2 linked regions of the Homo sapiens genome follow. The protein of the gene in region 2 interacts with the protein of the main gene of each other region in a biochemical or structural test. Each region holds a gene or a part of one and is shown on either strand. Other genes may lie near its edges.

The links. The genes of interacting proteins can lie anywhere in the genome.
Region 1: the proteins of SPN (region 2) and MSN form a complex in vitro, tested with the Homo sapiens proteins (2 studies listed by BioGRID).

The regions. Positions count from the first base shown.
Region 1 is NC_000023.11:65,729,965-65,733,729, reverse strand, and holds part of MSN (moesin), read right to left. Parts: intron 2,624-3,765; coding exon 2,540-2,623; intron 1,893-2,539; coding exon 1,746-1,892; intron 547-1,745; coding exon 450-546; intron 1-449. UniProt on the Homo sapiens protein: Ezrin-radixin-moesin (ERM) family protein that connects the actin cytoskeleton to the plasma membrane and thereby regulates the structure and function of specific domains of the cell cortex.
Region 2 is NC_000016.10:29,669,029-29,671,516, reverse strand, and holds the end of SPN (leukosialin precursor), read right to left. Parts: 3' UTR 641-2,488; downstream 1-640. UniProt on the Homo sapiens protein: Predominant cell surface sialoprotein of leukocytes which regulates multiple T-cell functions, including T-cell activation, proliferation, differentiation, trafficking and migration.

The sequences.
Region 1 (3,765 bases), on a different chromosome or scaffold from region 2:
TGGGCAACAGAGCGAGACTCCATCAAAAAAAAGAAAGAGAGAGAGAGAGAGAGGAAGGAAGGAAGGAATCAAATATGTGAACAGTGTCCACTTTCTGGGACCCAGGGGCTTGGAAATATGAGATGCATTCGGTTTCCACCCCAGAACCTCAGGGCAGCAGAGGCAATGGCTAAGAAGCAGTTCTTAACACTGCCTGTGGCTCTCCCACATCCACAGTGAGAGAGACAGGTAGCAGAGTAGAACCAGGTACAGGATGTCTGCTGGCCATTTCTTGGCATCAACATCCCCCTCCATTCCCAATCTCTATTTGTGCTTCCTGTTCGTGCACATGCGCGCACACACGTACACACAAACACATCAGAAAAGGAAGAGAAAAATAGAATAGCATGATTGCTCATTATGCAGGCCTTGGCAAGTACCTGTCTTGGTCAGAGGGAGGAATCACTCACCGGGGCTTTTTTGTCAATGGGCTTGATGACAAATTTCTTATCATTGAAAGAGATGTTCCTGATTTCACTCCAGGGGAAGCCTATCTTGGGAGTTAGTCTGTAGAAATAGAAACCAATAACATCAGGACAAGGGCAAGACAAGAAGGGTGTAGAGAACTGGGGGCTTGCCCTCACTGTCACCTCCAAGCTTCTATGTCTCTCTCTCTCTTTTTTTTTTTTTAAAATAAATAGAGACGAGGTCTCACTATGTTACCCAGGTTGGTCTTGAACTCTTGGGCTTGAGCAATCTTCCCTCCTCAGCCTCCCAAAGTGCTGGGATTACAGGCGTGAGCCACTGAGCCTGGCCAAACAAACACTTCTCTCTGGAGGAGGTAGACTCAGTGACAGCTCAGCCAGTGTCATCACACGCCACCAGGTCAGCTGCCAGCATTGAGAGTTCACTAAAGATCTCCTGATAGTACAACTAACATATGATTCCTTGTCTCAAGTTTGTTTTGTTATGTATTTGTTTGAGGCATGGAACTTGTAACAGTTCCTCAAGGGAATCCCCAGCCCTATTTAACTGAGTCTCTTCTATCCAAGCTTACAAAAGTTTGAGAGAAAGTAAATAATGAACTCCAAGATTCAGGAGTTATATGGAACAATAATTTATTGCTCTCCATCCTCACCAAGAGCACACCAAGTGAAAAATATAAGCAAGTGGGATAAGGCTACAGTGAGAGGATTATAGGCCAAAAGCCACTTAACCATCACAGGAGACTAATTACAAATGCTGATAAGATAGTCTAGGCCTGCACGATCCAATAAAAACATAATGACTGTCACATATATAATTTTAAGTTTTCTAGTAGCCACATGAAAATAAGTAAAAAGAAATGGATGTAATAAAATTATAGTAAGTTTAGTTAACCCAATATATCTAAAATATTATCATTTAAACATGTAAATAAATATTTTTTAAAATATTAAGACATTTTACGTTCTGTTTTTCACACTAAGTCTTCAAAGTCCAGTGTGTAGTTTACACTTACAGCAGCACATCTCAATTCAAAGTAGCCACATTTCAAGTGTTCAATAGCCCCATGTGGCTGGTGGCTACCATAGTTGACAGTGTGAGTCTAGTCAATACAGGATTTAGTATTGACTAAGGGAAGTTGTGAAATCATCTGGGCTGGACTAAATTAGGTAGAAAAAGAACTGAGATGGGACCCAAGAGATATGGCCCTGCTCCTTGGTGAAAAGTGAGCCCTAGATGTTAACGTGACCTAAATAAACTAAAAGAGATCTGAGATATACCTGTCATTCTGCTCATAGATGTTGAGACCCAGGGCATCCACCCCCAGCCACAGCTCTGAGCCTTTCTTGTTCTTGATGCTGAAGTAGTTCACACCATACATCTCCAGATCTTGAGCAATCTTCAGATATTCCAGGACAGCATCCTCCCTAAATGACACAGAGTTGGGGGTCACAAAGTGGGGCTTGTGAGTCAGACCCAAGGAGATAGAAAGCCTGCTTACTCTGTACTTCTGACAAGGATCTTGCTATCAGGAGTGGGAAAGGGGACAAAAGGCAAGCAGATGATGGAGAACAGAGCACAGCATGACTTTTGCAAAGCAAAATCTCCTAACAAAAACCTAGGGTCTAAGCTCCCAAGGGGAATAAAGATGGGCTGACCCTTGCTGGCCTCTGGCATGTTGGCTGCCATAGAAGCAATTTTCTTTCTCTCATTCATTGTGACAGCCTCTTATAAAGGCACATTCTTAGCAGGGCTCAGAATGTGGTGATGGCAAAATGATGATATTTGTCCTTCAACTACACAACCCTCAAAAATGCTTTGCCATGTGTAAGAGCTCCCTCCATTTCTTGATAGTCAAAACTGTTTGGGCTACCAGTTACCAGCATTCAGCAAAACAAACAAACAAGCAAACAAAAAACAGCCTTATAATGGTCCTAGTTTGCCTTCTATCGTCCCTGTTCCCTCTTTCTCCAACATCCACCAATGTCCCTTGTCATCAGTCTCTTCTCCCTAGAACGCATTCTCATTCACCCTGTAAGGGAAGTGGGGCCCACCACTGCTTGGGCAAGCTTACCTGAGCATGCCACGGTGTTCCTCATGCCACACCTGGATCCGCTCCTCCCACTGGTCCTTGTTGAGTTTGTGCTGTTCCAGGACTCTGGAAAGACAATGGGTGATGAGTAGTTTAAAGCACAAAGTCCCTGTGCAGGAGAGAAGGGAAGCCCATTTAGCTTTCTAAGGGGCTGATGCAAAGAGGATGTAGAGTCAGCCAATTGAGGTCACACTGGAAGCAGACCGAAATTATAGCAAGAAGGTGTTAAACTAGACACAAGGAATTGCCTGAAAGGTAAGAGAGCTACAAGAATGGATGATCAAAAACAACAAGGGGAACACCTTCCTTTGTACCTTCATCCACAAATCAAATGATGTGCTGTGGTCCCTAAGCATAGCAGTAATGTGTCAGGAGTTTGTGCTGACTTTAGGGGCTAACAGTAGGGATGGACCTCATGGAGTCAGGTACACTCTCTCCTAGATCCTCTTAGGACCAACACTCTATGTTTATAAGAATACTGCTCAGAAATGAAAGGATGGCCTTTGGCTACAGAGCAATGAACTGAGTCCTAATGGCTTTCAGAAAAACCAACAGGCCCAACCTCCAAGACCTACTAGATTATAAACAAGGTTTGCTTTAAACATGCCATCTCAGATATCATGGCAATGACTCAGGTAGAGTCCCCAGGGTACAAGCACTATCCCTAATATCTTATGGGTGTGTTGTACATATATGCCATAACTCCAATGGGACTGAGGCTCCCAGAATGAAGCAAAGCTTTTCCTTCTAATCCAAAAGACTATGGAAATGGCCATTGGGTATAGTAGGAAAAAACTTAGTGTTAAAATATTAAGGTGCTAAGCTTCCAGGTCTGGCTCTGGCTCTGCCTCAGATGAGCTGCACCAGATGGGGAAAGTCAGTGTGAGTACCTCTGCACCTCTATTTCCTTCGCCAGGAAATAAGGATATTGCCTGCTTTGTTCATTTTGTGTGTTATTGTGATACAAAAACAAAAATAATGAGTGTTTTAGAGCTTTTGACTTTGAAGTTTACAAAAGGGGAAAGCTCTGTACACTAGCTGTCAATATTAAAAGACTATTTGAGCTCCCCATGTCCTCGGTTTGCTTATTTCTCTCTCTCCCCTGTGAACTTCTGATATAAGAGATCTAAATCAGTAAAAAGAACTGAGAAAATGGAACCAGGGATGGGTGAAAGAAATTACTCAATCTCTGGTTCTATATAAGCACC
Region 2 (2,488 bases):
GGATGCAAGGGTCGGTGGAAGAAGAGCCAGGGACTTGGCACCTGGAGAGCAGGAATGGGGAAAGAGTGGGGCTGCACGGTGGTCCTAAGGCGTTTTGCCTGGGCCACCAGAACGATGCTACTCACCACTCTGGGGACTAGAAGAGAGGAGAAGAGCAGACTTAGGTGTGTTGATTTCACCACTACTTCCAGAATGCAATTCAAACTCTCAGCAGAGCACTATGGCTCACGCAGAGCACTGTGGCTCACGCCTGTAATCCCAGCACTTTGGGAGGCCGAGGCAGGTGGATCACGAGGTCAGGAGATCGAGACCATCCTGGCTAACATGGTGAAACCCTGTCTCTCCTAAAAATACAAAAAAATTAGCCTGGTGTGGTGGCGGGCGCGTGTGGTTCCAGCTACTCAGGAGGCTGAGGCAGGAGAATGGCATGAACCCGTGCCACTGCACTCCAGCCTGGGTGACAGGGTGAGACTCCGTCTCAAAAAACAAAAACAAAAACAAAAACAAACCTCAGAACTCAATTCAAACTCTTGAACTTTTCATAGCATGGCTCCAACCTCCACTTGCAGCCTCATCCCCTACCACTCTCCTCAAACCAGACACCCCCAGGCCACCCCCTTGAACACCTTTTTGACCACTATTTTTTCATATTGTAAAAGTAACAGATATTTATTGTATGAAATTCGGAAAATACAGAAGAGCATAAACAAAATAAAAATCACACATAAACTCACCACTTTGGAGATCAGCATGGAAAACATTTGCGATGGGTCCTTTGTTTCCCTATAAGTGCATATATGGTTGGGAATTTTTATTACAAAACTAAAATCATATGTATTACAGAGGAGTAACTTGCTTTTTTCCCCACTTAACATTATATTGCTGGTATTTTCCAAAGTCATTACATAATTTTCAAAAACATGATTTTTACTGACTATAAGTTCAATAAGCCATTTACAATTATTTTCATAACTAATATATTTAATCTTATACCATATTTTATATTTTCTTTTTTTAAATTTTTTTCCAAGACGGAGTCTTGCTCTGTCGCCCAGACTAGAGTGCAATGACACGATCTCGGCTCACTGCAACCTCTGCCTCCCGGTTTCAAGCAATTCTTCTGCCTCAGACCCCCAAGTAGCTGGGATTACGGGGGCATGCCACCACGCCTGGCTAATTTTTGTATTTTTAGTAGAGACAGGGTTTCACCATGTTGGCCAGGCTGGTTTCAAACTGGCCTCATGATCTGACTGCCTCGGCCTCCCAAAGTGCTGGGATTACAGGTGTGAGCCACCACGCCTGGCCATGTTCTTTCTTTTGAGACAGAGTCTCACACTATTGCCCAGGCTGGAGTGCAGTGGCATGATCACAGCTCACTATAGCCTCAAACTCCTGGGCTCAAGCAATCTTCCCTGCCTTCGCCTCTTGAGTAGCTGGTACCACAGGCGCACACCACTACACCTGGCTAATTTTTCATATTTCAAATTTTTTGTAGAGATAGGGGTCTATGTTGCCCAGGCTGGTCTCCAACTCCTGACCTCAGGTGATCTGCCCGCCTCAGCCTCCTATAGTGCCACCGCATAGCCACTGCACCCAACTATTTTCTTACTGTTCCTTGCTCTATCTCCTTTTTTTTTTTTGAGATGGAGTTTTTTACTTGTCGCCCAGGCTGGAGTGCAATGGCGTGATCTCGGCTCACTGCAACCTCCACCTCCTGGGTTCAAGGGATTCTCCTGCCTCAGCCTCCCAAGTAGCTGGGATTACAGGTGCCCGCCACCACGCCCAGCTAATTTTTTGTATTTTGAAACAGGGTTTCACCATGTTGGTCAGGCTGGTCTTGAACTCCTGACCTCAGGTGATCCACCTGCCTCGGCCTCCCAAAGTGCTGGGATTACAGACGTTGAGCCACCACGTCTGGCCTGCTCTATCTCCTTTTTTTGTTTTCCTTTTTAGTCTTAAAATATCCACTGCTTCTTTTGCTTTGCTTTTTCCTCCAGAAAATTAAAAGACATCTATTGTCGGGCACGGTGGCTCACGCATGTAATCCCAGCACTTTGGGAGGCCGAGGCATACGGATCAGCAGAGGTCGGGAGTTCAAGACCAGCTTGACCAACATGGTGAAACCCCATCTCTACTAAAAATACAAAATTATCCGGGTTTGGTGGTGCATGCCTGTAATCCCAGCTACCTGGGAGGCTGAGGCAGGAGAATTGTTTGAACCCAGGAGGCGGAGGTTCTGGTGAGCCAAGATCACGCCATTGCACTCCAGCCTGGGTAACAAGAGTGAAAACTCCATCTCAAAAAAAAAAAAAAGACATCTATTTCACGTTTGTTCAAAAAAGACTCTATATTGAACTGCTCCACTTTAAAAAATATATATATAAATGTTTACTTTTTGTAGACACGGGGTCTCACTATGTTGCCCAGGCTGGTCTCAAACTCCTGGCTTCAAGCAGTCCTCCTGCCTCAGCTTCTCAAGTAGCTGGTA